Regions from separate parts of the Homo sapiens genome. Here region 1 is linked to region 2. Evidence: fine-mapped expression QTL. A gene starts in region 2. The other region holds a variant in brackets. All regions are shown on one strand. Distances are from middle to middle.

Region 1 (8,507 bases), 500 kb before region 2:
ACTGTTCATTAACAATAGGGAAGACTAAAGAAGCAAAATCTGACTTTTAAAGCAGCACCCTGGCCCGCCCAACCTGATCATCCCAGGAGGAATAAGAAGTGGCCCTGGCAATTCAGGAGCTTGTACTAGTTTGGAGCAATGAGATAGACACAAAATAGATGAAAATCCAAGGCCCAATAAAATCAAATGCTGAACCTAGATAAATTAGTACCAGTTGAGTAAGCTGTAGTTTGTCTTTGCACAAAAAAGGGAGAGCTTCAAATTGGCTAAAGTGACTGACAGAAGTTTCCTGAATTTCCCTCACTCAACAAACCTTGATTAAACTTACTGCATTCCCACTGCCTTCTCACAAACTACATCCTCAGAGCATCGTATGTAAGAACAACCATATAAAGTACCACTTTTATTCCCATTTTATAGACTCAGAAACTGAGGCTCAGAGAGGTTAAGTAACTGCCATAGTCAGGACTCATTAGGTTGCAAGTGACAGAAACTCAACTCGAAGCAGGCAAATCTGTTGGCTCATGTAACCGGAAAGTCCCGGAGGAGAGGCTGGGCTTCACATCTGGATCTGGCTGCTGAATATCATCAGACCCCTGTCTCTCCACCTCCCGGCTCCAGTGCCCTCTCTGAGGCCTCATTCCCAGCCCAGCTCTGCTCAGGAGGCCACAGGGGCCACAAGAGCTCCAGGCTTGTGTCGCCTATGTTAGCGGCCAGAGGAAAGAGAGAGATTCTTCTGCACAGATTCTGCCAGGAGCCCAGGGCTTGACACTCAGTGGCCTGATTGGGCCATGTGTCCATCTCTGACCCATGGCTGACTCTGATTTACCCAGCCTGGGTCCTGCACCCACTGTGGTTCCAGGTGGGGAGTCAAGCCCATTCTGAAGGTCGCAGATGGAAAGCAGGGCTGGAGTCTTTGCTGGAAGCAGGAAGAACAGATGTGGCATCGGAGAGCCACGTACCCAGCTCAGGAGCTGCCCAAGGTTATTTAGGGAGAACCGTTTCCTTCTGCTGCCCAGTTTCTACTTTGGCTCAGTGAAGAAGCAGCGTCACCCCTGGTAAAAATGCCAGACGGGGCCCTGCTTCCCATCTCTGTACCCCTTGCCTGCTCCTCACCAGGACAGCAAACTTGGTGGCAGCCAATAGCCTGGGGGCAGAGTTAATGAAATGCAGATCACTGTTCATACCATGTGTAGCCCAGGCTTCTGCTTCCTGGACCAAGCTGCCTCCAGGGCCGCAGGTATCTCTGCTTGCTGTGTTCACACAGACGGGACTCCATCCTCTGGGTCCGAGCCAACTTTCCCACTGTCAGCTCAGGGGAAAAGGCATATCTGGTTTGGGGTTGGAAGGCTGAGGCCACACCACTACCTGAAGCCCAGGTGATGTTCCAGCTACCTCTAGCCCTGGCACCTTCAGGGGGAGGAGGCAACAGCAAATGGCCCCTCTGACCACCATCGGCCTCTGTCTCTCCCTGTCCCCAGCAGGATCTAAACCTCCCTCCCTCCACTAATATGGTGTCCCGAGCACACCAATCGGAGACCACCTAGATCCATCCAGGAGGCTGGAGGAGGCAGAGGCTGGGAGGGGGAGCTTATGAATGGAGAGGAATCGTGTGGGGTCCCAGGGAAGCCCTGAGGATCTGGGCTGGGTCCTGCCCACACGGGCTTCTGCAGCATCCTGTGACATTGGAGCCCGGAGGAAGAAAGAAAGGGGAGTTCGCCAGGACTGGGGTCAGGGATGCTGCTGTACGTGCCCATATGCCCTTGGCACTCAGTTCCAGAACATTCCAACAATGTCCTTCTGTGAACACCAGCGACTCTCCTCTGGGATCTCCCATAACTGGAGGCACCATGGAGTTCTCATGCCCAGAAGCAGCCCTGAGCCAAGGATGGTGGGAGTTGAATGAGACCCCAGTTTCCTTGCCCCACAGCCTGCCCGGCACCATCTCCCAGAGCCCCCTGGTGAGAACCAGCCTGGGTCACTCGCTGCTGTGATGCGCTGAGAGCATTACTTCACTCTTTCCTCTCTACCGCTTTCTCGGGGTCTTAGGGCTGTTACCTGGGATTGCCTCCCAGAGCGGCTGCTTGCCCTCAAAGCCTTGTCTAGGGTCTGCTTCCTGGGGACCCCAGCTTTAAACAACCAGCTACTATTATGGGTTGAATGGTAACCCCCAAAAGATGTGTCCACATCATAATCCCTAGAATCTGTTATTGTGACCTTATGGGGAAAATGTCCTTGTGGATGTGATTAAGTGAAGAATCTTGTGATGAGATCACCCTGGATTATCCTGCCAGACCCTAAATCCAATGACAGCCATCCTTGCAGGAGAGAGGCAGAGTGAGGCCTGACACACAGAGAAGAGGAGAAGGCCACGTGAGGACGGAGGCAGAGGATGGAGGCAGAGATGGGAGGATGCGGCCACCAGCCAAGGACACCCAGAGCCACCAGAAGCTGGAAGAGGCCAGGAAGGAGCCTCTCCTGGAGGCTTCAGAAGGCGCTTGGCCCTGTTGACGCCTTGATTTTGGATTTCTGGCCTCTGGAATGGTGAGAGAACACATTTCTCTTGTTATAAGCCACTCAGTTTGTAGTCACTTGGTACAGCAGCCCCCAGGAAACTCCTAGAGCTGTCTTCTGTCTTGTGGGAGACTCCTGGGGCAATGGTATAGTATTGGGGTTATAACTCATTCACAGTTCACTTGAATTTTATCCCTAAGAAAAGTCACGGGCCATGGGAGAGATTTCAAGCAAAGGCGTGATATGGCCCAGTCGTGTTTTTATTTTTATTTTTGAGGCAGATCTCACTCTGTCACCCAGGCTGGAATGCAATGGCACAATCTTGGCTCACTACAACCTCCGCCTCCCAGGCTCAAATGATCTTCCTGCTTCAGCCTTCCTAGTAGCTGGGACTACAGGCACACACCTCCATGCCCAGCTAATTTTATTTATTTATTTTTTTATAGAGATGGGGTTTTGCCATGTTGTCCAGGCTGCTCTCGAACACTTGGGCTCAAAGGATCCACCCACTTTGGCCTCCCAAAGTGCTGGGATTATAGGCATGAGCCACCATGCCTGGCCTCCCAGCTGTGTTTGGAAAGGGTCTCTGGTTGTTGTGGAAAATGCAGACCAGAGCTGGGATGAAGGTAGGTTTCCCAGGGAAGGCCTAGGTCAGACCCTAAGCTGCTCCTGCCAACCTCGCTTCCAGGGCAGGCAGGCGTTGATGACGGACATCTGTGTTGACAACTGCATCTGCAGCATCCAGCGCCCATTCTGGGCCAGCCAGCAGCTCTCTGAGCAGGTAGGGGCATCCCTGTGAGGGTCCTGACCACCCCAGCAGCCCCAGATGATGCTCCCCATGATGGAGGTGACCCCCTAGCATGTACTTTGTGCCAAAGGGCCTGGCTCACAGCTTTTCAGAAAACCTGAAACCAAAAGGTAATTTACTTC[C/G]CTTCTCACCGAGGTCACTTAGCTGTCTGCCAATCATATTTCAGATGTGATCAACCTGGTCGCACCCTCCTCTTCTTGACCTGACTTGCAAAAACCCAGTTGAATGAATCTCCCTCCACCACAGGCAATTTTCCCTTGGGGAGAAAGACAGCTCGTTCTTTTTGACACTGGTGAATGTCCTTTAGGTGTGATATATGGCCTCTCTTTGACAACCAAGGTGGTGCACCCAACCTGAATTTATTCTTTTAATATCTCAGCCAAGGAGTGATTGCTCCATGTTCTTTATTCTCTTTGATGAAGCACTTAAGGGATTACCTGTACCTTCCGAGCTGAAGTGCCGCTCAGGAGAGAAAGGAAAGGGGTATGGCCCTATGAACTAATGGAATTAATAACTTTGGGGCAATTTATCTTCTCTTACTGACTTCCCACACCCCTTCTTTCCATCCCTACTGCCAAGACCCATTAGGGACACCAAGTTGGCAGTGAAAAACTGAGAAGCACTCTAAAAATGTGCAGGGGGTGAGACATTTGGGCATTTCTTTCTTCGTTTTGTTTTTTAGAGACAGGGTCTCACTCTGTCACCCAGGCTGGAGTGCAGTGGTGCCATTATAGCTCACTGCAGCCCCGAACTCCTGGGTTCCAGCCATCCTTCTGCCTCAGCCTCAGATGTGACAACAGGCATGCACCACCACACCCGGCTAATTTATTTTATTTTATTTTCTTGTAGAGACGGGGTCTCGCGTTGTTGCCTAGTCTGTCTTTGTAAGGAAAGAAGGAAACTTCCTTATCCTGTCACTACACAGCTGCAGTTAACTGTACCCTTTGTTATGGCCCCTCTTGAACCAAAACAGGGAGCTCCCACCTGATGATCAGCACCTCCTCAGCATTTTCTCTTGCTACCTCACAAGACGGTAAGCTCTCTTTGGAGAAACACAAACATCTCCTCCCGCCATGCCCTGTCCTGGTGTCCCAGGCTCTTGGAGATGCTCAGAAAATAAACAGAGAGGTGGAACAGCATGCACATGACAGCTGATGATGGATGTTGTGGTGACTCCCAAACAGCTTTCCCCACAAACCCTGGAGCCCTGCACCCCAGCCCCCCCGAGCCTCCTCTCTAGGCCTTCTGCGTTGCCAGAATTGTGATGGACGGTGGGGCCATCATCTGTCCTTCTCCCTGTCCTTCTGGCACACAAAACAGTGCCCAACATGAGGACAATTGGGAGGGGTTGGGAGAAAAAATAAAACTGTTCATGTAGCCAAGAAGCCAGGCGAGAGGATTTATCATGCATTCCTCATGGAGGCCACTCCCTCCACCCCCGACCCCTGACTGGCTCCAGTTTAAACATTCCCTTTTGTGTTTGAGGAGAATGGATGGAATTTGCATGTTTCTCTTCCAACAGCAGCTAGTGTCTGGGGACAGGGTTGCTGTGGCTGACACGTGGAGACAGCCATCATCAGCCAAAGGGAGAGGACTGGAGGGCCCCCAATGACCACCATGGAGCTGAGACAGAGCTTGCTGCTCCTCTCTGACACCTGATCCCCACCACTGCCACCTGTATGGCTATTGAGCCTGGACTAATGGAGAGGAGGGAAACTGAGGCACAGAGGGAGGGGGTGAGTGAAATGGAAAGGTGTGGAGAAGAGCTCCAGCTGGTGTCTGAGCCCAGCTATCAGACTCCCCTTTGACCTGGTGTCTCTCCTTTCTCTACCTGGTGTCTCAGTTTCCCCCCTGGAGTTTGAAGGGCTGCACTTGGTCAGAATTTGCTAAAGCGTGGCATTACGATGACAGGAAAAATCTCTGTCTAATATATCCACAGGCCCTGAACACTCACAACCTTCCTTGTGAACAAAGCTGGACTCAGGCTCGGAATCCTCTTCAGGCAAGGGTCTCCAGCTAGTAACACTTGGTTTCTGTTTTTCAGTTACCGTCTATTAAATACGGCAAGGAGTAATGATTTCCCACTTCTGACCCTGCGTAAAGAAATCTATTTAATGTTTTTAAGAGGTGAATTTATTTAGAAACAAACATGAAAATAGCACAGGTGGAAGTGAAACGGAACAAGCTTTATGGAAGGGGAGCCAAGTTGTGTCTAATTAGGCCGTGATTGTGTCTGTGTCCCCAAATGCAGGACATGAGGTCCTCCGGGCCACCCTCCCTCCCAAGTCTAAGATTCTTTGAGGCTACAGAGATTGGCTCAAGGTTTGGGACAACCAGGCAAGGTTGAACAATAGGCTAAGAGGACAACCTGTTCTGAGCAGATGCCCTGCACGTCCAAAGGTCAGGTTGGGGTGGGTTGTCTGAGTTTCAAGAAGAAGGAACGCGAGACCAGCGACAGCCCCAATCCTGGAACAGGAGTCTCAGCCCCATGCTGGAGCAGACGAGGAGAGACACGTGCTCGAGTGGCCACAGGGCGCTGGCCACCTAGGCTAACTAGGAAGGAAACTAGCTCATCTCTTTGGGTTTTGTCTGAAGCCTCCCTACTGAACTCACCCCCAGCCCTCCCTCCTATGTCTACAGGGACCCTTAGAGAGAGAGAGAACCTGCCCCTTGAATTGAAAACAGCTCACAGCTTTCTGAACTCAAAGCTCCCAGGCAGGAAGCAGCCTGTCACAGCAGAGGGAGCAGGAAGGAATGCGGTGAAGACAGCTGCATGTCTAAGCCTCTGCGATTCCTCCCATTGGCCCTAGGAGGACTTGCCCAGAGGTGCACGGTAAAGAGCACAGCCAGTGCAAATGCACATTTCTCCACCGAATCCAGCACCACCCTCTGTGGCCTGCAGACCTAGGAGTGATGCTAGGGTGAGGGGTGCAGCCCTGTCCCTCCTTGACATCTGCAGGACTCCAAGCTCGTCATCACCATGACTGTGGGAAGGTGGCAATGCCCTGGGCTGGTGTTTGAGACCTTAAGTTGAGCAGAACACCTGGCGGGTTCCTACGAGTGCATCCCAGGTGTGAGGCTGAAAGGGGACCCTGCCCTCCCTGCCCTAGCCCAGAGATGGGGCTGCTCAGGGGCTTGGTGTTCTAACCCATGCTCAGAATCTGGGGAGCAAAGTTATTTCATGGGCCACTGAGGAAGGCCAACATCCAGACTGCTTGGCCTCTGCAGAATACAGAGGATGCTTAAAGAGAGGAGACATGCTCTGCCCCGCTCAGCTCCTTCCCTCCCCTTCCCCTCCCTTACCTCCTTTCCCCTCACCTTGTCCTCATTACCTCCTTCCCCACTCAGCTCCTCCCCTCTCACCTCCTCCCCATCACCTCCTTCCCCCCCACTTCCTCCCTGCTTACCTCCTACACACTCACCTCCTCCCCATCACCTCCTTCCCCCCCACTTCCTCCCTGCTTACCTCCTACACACTCACCTCCTCCCCATCACCTCCTTCCCCCCCACTTCCTCCCTGCTTACCTCCTACACACTCACCTCCTCCCCATCACCTCCTTCCCCCCCACTTCCTCCCTGCTTACCTCCTACACACTCACCTCCTCCCCATCACCTCCTTCCCCCCCACTTCCTCCCTGCTTACCTCCTACACACTCACCTCCTTCCCATCACCTCCTTCCCCCCCACTTCCTCCCTGCTTACCTCCTACACACTCACCTCCTCCCCATCACCTCCTTCCCCCCCACTTCCTCCCTGCTTACCTCCTACACACTCACCTCCTCCCCATCACCTCCTTCCCCCCCACTTCCTCCCTGCTTACCTCCTACACACTCACCTCCTCCCCATCACCTCCTTCCCCCCCACTTCCTCCCTGCTTACCTCCTACACACTCACCTCCTTCCCATCACCTCCTTCCTCCGCATCGCCTCCCTTGCCCCCTCACCTCCTCCCCTCTCACCACTTCCCCACTCACCCTCTCCCCATCACTTCCTTACTCATCTCCCTCCCCACTCCCCTCCTCTGCCTCACCTCCTTCCCCCCCACCTCCCCCACATCCTCCCTATCACCTCCTTCCCCCCACCTTCCTCCCCACTCACCTCCTCCCCATCACCTCCTTCCCCCGCCACCTCTTTCCCCCCTCACCTCCTCCCCATCACTTCCTTCCCCTCTACCTCCTCCCTGCTCGCCTCCTCCCTGCTCACCTCCTGCCCACTCACCTCCTATCACCTCCTTCCCCTACTCATCCCTGCTCTACTCATCTCCTCTCTGCTCACCTCCTGCCCACTCATCTCCTCCCTATCACTTCCTTCCCGCCACTCCACTCCCATCCCCACTCCACTCACCTCCTCCCTGCTCACCTCCTCCCTGCTCACCTCCTCCCCAGTCACCTCCTGCCCATTCACCTCCTCCCCATCACCTCCTTCCCCCCACCTCCTCCCCCATCACTTCCTTCCCCTCCACCTCCTCCCCGCTCACCACCCCCCTGCTCATCTTCTCCCTGCTCACCTCCTGCCCACTCACCTCCTCCCTATCACCTCCTTCCTCCACTCATCCCTGCTCACCTCCTCCCTGCTCACCTCCTGCCCACTCATCTCTTCCCCATCACCTCCTTCTCCCCCACCCCCTCCCCACTCACCTCCTCCTCCACCCCAATCATCAGCTCTCACATTTGAGGATGGAGGAGCTGGAGCTGTCTCCCAACACAGCCGAGGGTTGTTTGCTTTCACGGTGGTTCCAGGGCCACAGAACAGTCCCCTGGCTTGGTGGAAGCACAAAACCTCAGCAGCCAAGAGAGGTGTGTGGGCCAGTGGGACCGTGTGTGGGTCAGAGGGACTGTGTGTGAGCCAGAGGGACTGTGTGTGGAGCCATGTGAGCTGGAGGGAGACCGTGTGCGGGCCTGAGGGGCCTCATGTGGGCCAGGGGCCCCAGAGACAGGCGGCTACTGGAGGCCCCTGCCATTGTCTCAGCTTGTAGCTCTGAAATTCTGCACCTGTCAGATTTCTCTGAGAGAGCTTATTTCAGAAATAGATCCCAGACCTCTTCTAAGAAAAAGCCCAGGCACCCTGAGTGCTGGCTCCTGAGAGCATGGTTCTGTCAGGGCCCTGGAACCAGCATTTTTAGCATGGTTCCTCAGGAGAAAACGACTTTGGGAGCTGGGAGACCTCACTTGAGAGACACGGGCCTT
Region 2 (8,000 bases):
GAGCCCTTCCCAGGATTTTCTAATATGTAAATCAGGAAAAATTAAGTGAAAACTGGCTGCCCAGCCCCCAAAGCCCACCTATACTTCCTAAAGGTTAGTATAAAGTCTGTTCCTCTTACTTGGTGCCCCCCTGCACAGATTTGACACTTACTCTCCATTAAACCCATTAACATGCAGGATCCTCATCTGCTTCACAATGGTGCTTTTACCAGATTCTCCAGCACCTAGAAAATGAAAGTAAGTCTCAGGTTATGAAGGAGGCATTTTAACACTTTGGGCAGGGAGGTCTGCTGTTGTTGTTTTGTTTTTCCATAGAAGCAACATGCAAAAAACCAAACACAAAATCACAGACTTGCAACTTTCCTTGACATTTCGACGCAGAGAAAAGGAAATCAATGTCCAATTCAGTGTCTACCTGCAGTATTTCACCATCCAAATAACAAACAAGAATTTAAGGTTTGCTGGTTTTAATTTTTCTTTTGATTGTTTAAAAAATTGTGGGGTGGTGTTGGAAAGGGGCAAAGAGAAGGAATGACGCAATTTTGTCATTTGTGGGGTAAACAAGAAAATTGAAGTTAAAACTGTGAAACTGAATCCCTGATACATGAACATTCACACATAAACATATCTAGACACATAATTTGTTGTCAGATGTTTCATGGTTAAAATACCCGGGATTCCCAACAATGCCCAGACACTGCAGTCTCTTCCACATCACGTAGCGATGCAGCACTTTCCTCCTCAACATTTTCACAACGCAGCTTCTTTCTGTGCAGGTTTCCTACCCCTTGGGCTACTTAAAAATCCACCCCTAAAACTGCATTACATTTTATCCACTTATCCATCCTCCTCTTTCCTCACAAACTATATCTTTCTAAAGATAAATTCCCTCTGGGTACAACTATGTTGCTGAGGAAAAGGGGAGACCATCAATTATCTGTCATCTTCTGGAAAAACCACACTTTAACATCAAATACAGTTCCTGAGACCCTATTAGCATTAGGTAAACTGCAAAAACAACAGTAAAAAGTAACATAAGAACAAAACTTTAATCAAAAGGAAAACTATCCCTGGGAAGTACTGAATTTGAAAGATTCCAAGCCCTTCCCAACTCAAAGAGTAGAAACACATGCCTCCATTTTAAATCATCTTTCATTTGTAAAAATACATATATGTTTCATGGAAAAAACACATTTCCATCAAGCTAGAGGGAGGATTGCTATTTTGCATCTTTTTTGCAATGCACATTCTCCAACAGATAATCCACGTGTGAAGTTTTTTTGCCCTCCTTCCACACAAATCTGTTATTACCTTTTTCTTTCTTTTTAACTTTTAATTGTATTGTTTTGTTTTAATGCCCAGATAGCACAGCATTCCTCCTTTACTTGCCTTTTCACAAGCCCGTAATCAATATCTGTAAAAGTTAAAATTAGTTTCCACAGAAACATTGATTTCAAAGCAAACACTATCTTAATGAGCCTAACTCTGGTAAATTAAAAATATAAATGGCACTATTAAGAGAGGCCAAGGAAACAATACGTAATATTTAGCAGGATCTCTAATATTCTAATTTCAGAAGTGTTAAACTGTGTAACAGTTACAGGACCTATCTTTCATAGGCAAAAACAGATCCGTGCCTCAGTTTCCACATTTATGAAATGTGGCTGAAAAATTATTTTAAGATCATTGTAGTTCTCTAATTCACTTAATTTTTATGTCATTAAGATGGAGTAAAAAGAGGATTTGGGGCATTATTAGGTTTCCTCTTTTGTGGGGAGGCATTATTTGGTGAGAATCACCATTTAAAAATGCAAAATATTGTGTCACTGGCTTAAGCTGCAGATTCCTAGGCCAGAGGCAATCAATACATCATGATGTAATGTAGTCATATAGACTAGGACACTTAGATTAGCCCCCGTGACGCAAGGCGTGTTCTGAGTAACAGTCTCAAATTAAGTGGAGACTTTGTGATCACTGCACAAAAGGTGTTGGAAATTTTAAGATATCATTAGCATCACACTTGACTTAAAGTAGTACTGAGATAGCATTCACAGAAAAGATTCTAGACTTTTCCAGATTTATACTTTGAAATCAAGTTATACGCATACTAATATCCCAACAGCATAATTCTGCCTTTAAAAGTTTTAGACAAGACAGCAACACATGTACCATTTAATTACTGAAATTGCAAATGCATAAACACCAAAGACACTTATTTTGACTTAATTAGTAATTTTCTGCTTTTATAAATCTGGACCCAGGAGAACAAAGTCATGACCTATGCAAAAAGAGCAAACCAAAAGCCACCAAAGGAAAATAAATAAGAACAGCCTTTTATTATTTTCTTTATACTCAAGCTGTTTTGTTGAAATGTGACCACGAACTAGGTCTTAACCTAGCAAATTCACAAATTTATTCAGATAGCCAAATTATCAAGGAAGTGGAAAACTTCCATTTTTAATTAATGCTGTGTAATTCTTTTGGTCATTTCATTACATTTTTTTCCCCCAAAACAGCACCTTAAGAAAAAAAAGGAGGAAAGGCCATCTCCTTATAGTTAACCTTTTTTTATTTTATTATTATTTTTTTAATCAGAGGAAAAATCGCAATCAAAAAAAGAAAACCCAAAACCAAACAACTAAATGTCACTTGATAAACAACTAATTAATGTCTTTTTATCTCTTCCCACCTGGAGGAAAAGTCTCCTTAGAGCACTCTCAATCCCCCCTCCCACCTTGAGGAGGACAAAAAAAAAAAAAAAAAAAAAAAGAAACCACGCCATTTCCAGACCAAGAAGCCATTTACAGACAAATGTCATTCTCCAGTTTTATCTGATTTGTGAATGTCTTTGTTTTTTCTTTTCACAAAGCACTCTCAATGTGGCCAGCCAGCAGGAAAATGTGTTTTTTTTAATGGTTTATTAAAATAGTGTTGGGGGGGCGCTGCTCGTGGTGGGTGGGGGGGGCAGCTGCTACAATTAATTCTCCGCTCTGCTTTTGAAAAAGCCTGCAAGTCTGGAAGGGGAAAAAAAGGTCACACTGTAAAATGACGTGTCATTTGGCTTCACTGGGCACTTCTCGTACTAACTCTATCCATTTTTTGGTGTTGGGGGGTGGTCTTATTTTATTTGACTCTCCTTCTCCTCCTTCCACGGCCCGGCCTGGCCCGGGACACGTCTGCTCCGCGCACACACAGTCAGTCGGTCCTGCCCGAAACGCACCAAGTCGCGCCCAGCGGCAACCGCCCTCCCTCCTCCCCTCGCCGCCCCCCTCCCGACTCCGGCGCCACGACTCCCTTGCGCCCCCTCCCCCCCACTGCACCACCTTTACCGCTCCGATCCTTTCCGAGGGGCTGATGTCACCAGCCCCCCCACTCTCCTCGGCCACTTCTCCCCGCCAAAGCCTCCCTTTGGCGAGGCCCCCTCCGCCACCACGGCGCCCCCCAGCGTCACCCCCTCCTCTCCTCGCCCCTTTCTTCCCCTCTTTCCCTCTCCCAACAAATCTCACACCCCACGGAGGCGGGTCCCCCTCCCTCTACCCGCCACCCGGTTTCCTGTCCCCGAAACCCTCTTTTTGTCGCAGTCTCCGGAGCCCCATGGGCTCCCCCTCCCCCTCCCCAACACGCACCCAAACCCCTGGCGTCGTGTAGGCCTCGCGGAAAAAGAGAGAAAGAGAGAAAGAGGGGGAGAGCGAGAGCGAGAGCAAGAGAGAGACACTGAGCGGGCAGGCCGGGGGAGGGGGACCCGCGCCCGCGTCGCCACGGCCCCCCGCCCCGTTTTTGAGCCCCCGCCCGGCCGAATCCGCGCCCCTGGGTCCCCCTTCCGGCCTCGCCCCCCACAGACAGAGCCCGCGAACGGGCGGGGGGCTCGGGAGCGCGCGCCCGGGGCGGGGGGCGGGCTCGGCGCGCGCGGCCTGCGGGGCGCCCTTCGAGGGCCCCCGGGCCGGGGCCGGCGCCCCCCGCCCGCCCTTACCCAGCAGCAGCAGGCGGTGCGTGGCCCGGTAGACCTGCTTGTCCTTCTGCAGCTGCTTCTCGATCTTTTTGTTGGCCTCACGCTGCGCCTTCTCCTCGTTGCGCTGGTCCTCGGTCTTACTGTTCCCGAGGCAGCCCATGGCGGCGGCGGCGGCGGCGGGGCGCGGCCGGGCTGCGGCGGCGGCGGGCGCGGGCGGCCTCACGCGGGCCGGGAGGGCCGGGGCAGCGCCGGGCGGGCGGGCCGGGCGCGGGCTCGGCTCCTCGGCAAGGAGCGCGCGGGGCGGACTGCGGGCCGCGGGCCGCGGGGCGCGCGGACGGGCGGGAAGGGGAGGGTGTCGGTCGGACCGAGGGGCGCGCGCAGCTCCCCGCCCCTCGAGCCGAGGCCGAGGGGGCTGATGGCCGCCGCCGGGCCGAGGCGGACCAGAGCAGGAGCTGCGGGAGCTGCTGCCGCCGCTGCCGCCGCCGCCGCTCTTATTGCCTCGGCCGGGCCCCCGCCGCCGCCCCGAGCCAAAAGCGCCGCGGCGGGCGGGGGGAGGCGGGGGGAGGAGGAGGCGGCGGCGGCGAGGGGGGTGGAAGGAGGAGGAGGAGGAGGAGGGCCGAGGAGCGGCCGCGGCGGCGGCGGCGGCTGGGAGGGCGGGAGCCGGCGGAGGGAGGCGGCCCCCCGGGAGCCCGGGGAGGGGGTCCCTCCGCCCGCGCCCGGCCGGGGACGGGACGGGCCGGGGAGACGCCCCCCACCCCCCGGGCTCGGGCAGCAGCCCGGCTGAGCCGAGGGGGGAGAGGGGGCGTCTCCGCGCCAGTGACGACCCCTCGCACGACGCCAACGCTCCACCCCCCGGACCGCGTCGCCCGGCGCCCCCGAGGCCTCCTCCCCCTCCCGCGGGCGCCGCCGAGGGGCTGGGGTGGGCGGAAGGGGAGGGAGCGCGCGCCCGGACTTAGGAAAATTTTCGAAAGAGCGAGAGACACAGAGAGCCAGAGAGCAGGAGTGTGGAAAAAGCGAGGCGAGCACGAACCAAAGGACAGAGCAACCGAAAAGGAAAATGTGTCCACACACACACACGAACACGAATAAAAACCCACACTACACAGCGATGGTGGTGTCTGGTGGCGGTGGCGGGGTGGGGGGTCTGACTAGATGAGCCGCTCCTCGCGCCCCCGGCGCCGGGCGCCATGGCCCGAGCCGAAGGCGCCTCTGGCCCCGGAGCGCCCGCGGCCTCTGCGCTTGGCGCGGCCGCCCAAGTAGGAGAAGAAGGCGCAGCCCAGGAACACTCGGAAGCAGCAGGTCGCCCCGAACACGAAGCCGCAGCCGCGGCCCTGCTCCGTGCGCTTCTGCAGCAGGAAGTTGAGCACCCACGAGGGGCTGCGCACCGAGAAGACCAGGAACACCACGAGGGGCAGGTGGGCGCTCAGCGCGCCAGCCTTGAGCGGCCCGGGCCGCCACACGATGCCCCCAACGCGCGGCGCCGCGTAGTAGGCGTCGTCCTCGTCGCTCGAGTCCGTGTCCCAGTCAGCCCAGGCCCTACTCGTGCCCCCGGCGGCGGCGCCCTCCTCGGCGCCCCCGACGGCGCCCTCCTCGGCGCCCTCGTCGTCGTCGGCGGCGGCCGCGGCGGCGGCGGCCTCGGGGCATCGGGCCTCCTCCTGGGCTTCTGGCACCTTCTTCTTCTTCTTCTTCAGCATCTTCTCCATCTTCTTCCTCTCCTTCTCCTTCTTCTTCTCCTCCTTTCGCCTCTGCTCCAGCAGCTTCTTCTCGAGCTTCTTGCGCTCCTTGTCTGTTAGGAACTTTTCGGGGAGCGCCTCCCGCGCCGGGTTCTTGGGGTTCTTCGCGAGCTTCTCGGGGTCCCCGCTCTTCCGCGGCGCGAGCGGCTCTCTCGGCTCGGCCAACGCCGCAGCCGCCGCCGCAGCTTCGGCAGCCACCTCGGCAGCCGCCGCGGCCGTCTTCTTCTCGCTCTCCGCCGCCCGGGCTTTGAGCTTCATGGCCATCTTCAGCATGGTGGCCCGGCCACCTCGGGGAGCTCGGCTCGCGCCTGGCCCGGGCTCCCTGCTTGCCCCCGGCCTCGGGCTGCCCGGCCCCCGTGCGCCCCGTGTCGGGGGGCTTGGCTGCGGTTCCCGCCGCGCTGCCCCGGGGCCGCGGAGCGCGGCTGCCCGGGCTTCGGGCTGCTGGGCTGGCTGCCTAAGAGTTAGCGCCAAAAAGGATGAGCAAACGAAAAAGGGACAAGAACAAACCAAAAAGCACCCAACAACAGCGAGAAACCAAAAAGCACCAAGAAATGTCAACTCAAAAAGAAAAGTGCAAAGGCGCGGATGGCAGGAGTCTGTTTACCCTCAGGCGCTCCTTGGTTTGGCTCTTGGGCACGCCAATGGAGAAGAGAAAAGAGAGAGAATTGGGGGGTGCCCGGAGGCGCCCCGGGGCAAGGCAGCGGCGCCCGGGCGCCCCTGCCTTGTCCCGGACCCGGCGGCTCTTGCCTGCGCCGGGCGACTCGCACTTCCGCGGGAGGCCCCGGCGCTCCCCGACTTACATGTGAGTGAGGTGCACTCACACGCAAGGCAGCGCCTGCCGGCCGCCCGCCGCCGCCCCGCGCCGGGACAGGGGCTCGCTCCAGCCGCCGCGCCGCAGCCCGGAGCCAGAGAGCAGGGGAGCGCCGCGCCGGCCAGCCACCTGACGCAGCCCGCTCCGCGGTGCCGACGCGACTGAGTGTCCCCGCCGGGGAGCAGAGCTTCTAACCGGCCCCGATGACGCCCCAGCCTCTTCAGAGGACCGACCCATAGCAGCGGCCCCTATAAACCGAAGGGGAAGCGCGAAAAATCGGCCCACCGGGGACGCACCCAAATGGGCCGCCGCGCACCCTGGGGGTGCAGGCCGGTGCCGGGACCGCGCGGGCGTGGGCCGGGGGCGCGGGGGCCGCGATGGCGGGGGGCGCGGGCGCGCCCAAGGCGGTGGGCGCTCAACCCCGCCTCCCAGACCTGCCTCCCAATTTTCGGTGAGTGGTGTAGCCCTGGGCGGCGTGCAAAGTGTGCGACGGCGGCGCTTACCCCTGCTGTGCGCCTCCTTACCTCCAGCCACCCACCCCGCCCTCCCAGCGGCGCGCGCCCGCCGAGGTAGGTGTCAGAGAGCCGAATTCGAATTATTTGCGACGCCCGGACGGAGTTTCGTATCTTCGGACGAGAAAAGTGCGATGGGAGTGCAAAGCCTCCCCTGCTCGAAGCAGCAGGCGCGCCGGTGTCACGGGAGCCGAGGAGCGGTGGCCGTGGCTGTGGAGTCGGTGCTCGAGGCGTCCTCCCAGGTGGGAGAGGTGGCGGCCTTGCCTGGGCGCCCTGGGGGCTCTGGAACAGAGGGAAAAGTAGTTTACGGAACGTGAACTTGTTTGAGGGTTCTTTCAAAACTCTCAAGTGTCCCGCCGCACACTAGGATATAGCAGTGCACGGGATTAGGAGCAGGGTTACTAAATTTTCAAGCAGTTGACCCCAGCCCGCCTTTCCTGGGACCTTGGTTAGGTCATCTGCTGCCACCATGGTGTCTGCTGGGATACGGTTTATTCATTCAATAAATGTTTGGTGCCTGCCAGTTCCGCGGCTCACCATGTGCCCAGGTGAGCCGAGGCGGCCAGGTAATCAGGCTAAGACGTGAGCAGTGTCTTGGATGGGACACAGGCCTACGTCCCGGAAAGCCCAGATATGCAAAGTCCACAAACTGTCTTCCAACTTTTTCTTTGACTTCTTAACAGAGCCCATGAAACTTAAGATGTTTGATGGAGAAGGAGAAAAAAGAAAAGTCTACCTATAAATGGAAACACATTTAACAGTCCCCAGGGGTATGGGGCGGCTGATACCACCAGAGGCCTTGAGCAAACTTGTATCATTTTAAGTTAGCTTTGAAAATAAAAAGACACTGTTAGCCATTCAACCGGATGACTGAAATTCCCCCCTTTTCCCCAGTTTGCTCCACTTCGAGTAAGAAAAGGTGTGACAGATGAAGATGCCACATATTATTTTTCTTGGCCCCTTCAGGTACACTGCTGCCCCCATTGTACAAGGCC

Direction of the effects. Alleles are on the strand shown, and positions count from the first base shown. SD is a standard deviation of normalised expression in the study named.
In carriers of allele C in region 1, the expression in esophagus mucosa of the gene that starts at base 4,415 in region 2 tends to be higher than with G alone (small effect, 0.19 SD a copy in GTEx).

The links. PIP is the estimated chance that this variant, and not a neighbour inherited with it, causes the effect.
Region 1: its variant is the best candidate, but not a certain one, in a credible set for the expression of GNAS in esophagus mucosa (GTEx, PIP 0.71).

Annotation. Positions count from the first base shown.
Region 1 is chr20:59,383,298-59,391,804 of GRCh38, reverse strand. No RefSeq gene overlaps it. Among named protein-coding and RNA genes, the nearest start is that of EDN3, 87 kb to the right of the region's middle. The variant C/G (reference allele first, on the strand shown) is at 3,445.
Region 2 is chr20:58,887,836-58,895,835 of GRCh38, reverse strand. It overlaps GNAS (GNAS complex locus), which reads right to left and starts at 4,415. Exons shown (of 13, transcript NM_000516.7): 1 at 3,971-4,415; 2 at 152-224. The coding sequence starts at 4,109. LOC101927932 (a long non-coding RNA gene) reads left to right here and starts at 7,026. Exons shown (of 5, transcript NR_126334.1): 1 at 7,026-7,062. RefSeq lists enhancers at 1-453, 7,078-7,297 and silencers at 3,258-3,347, 4,218-4,437, 4,448-4,947, 5,008-5,157, 6,358-6,637.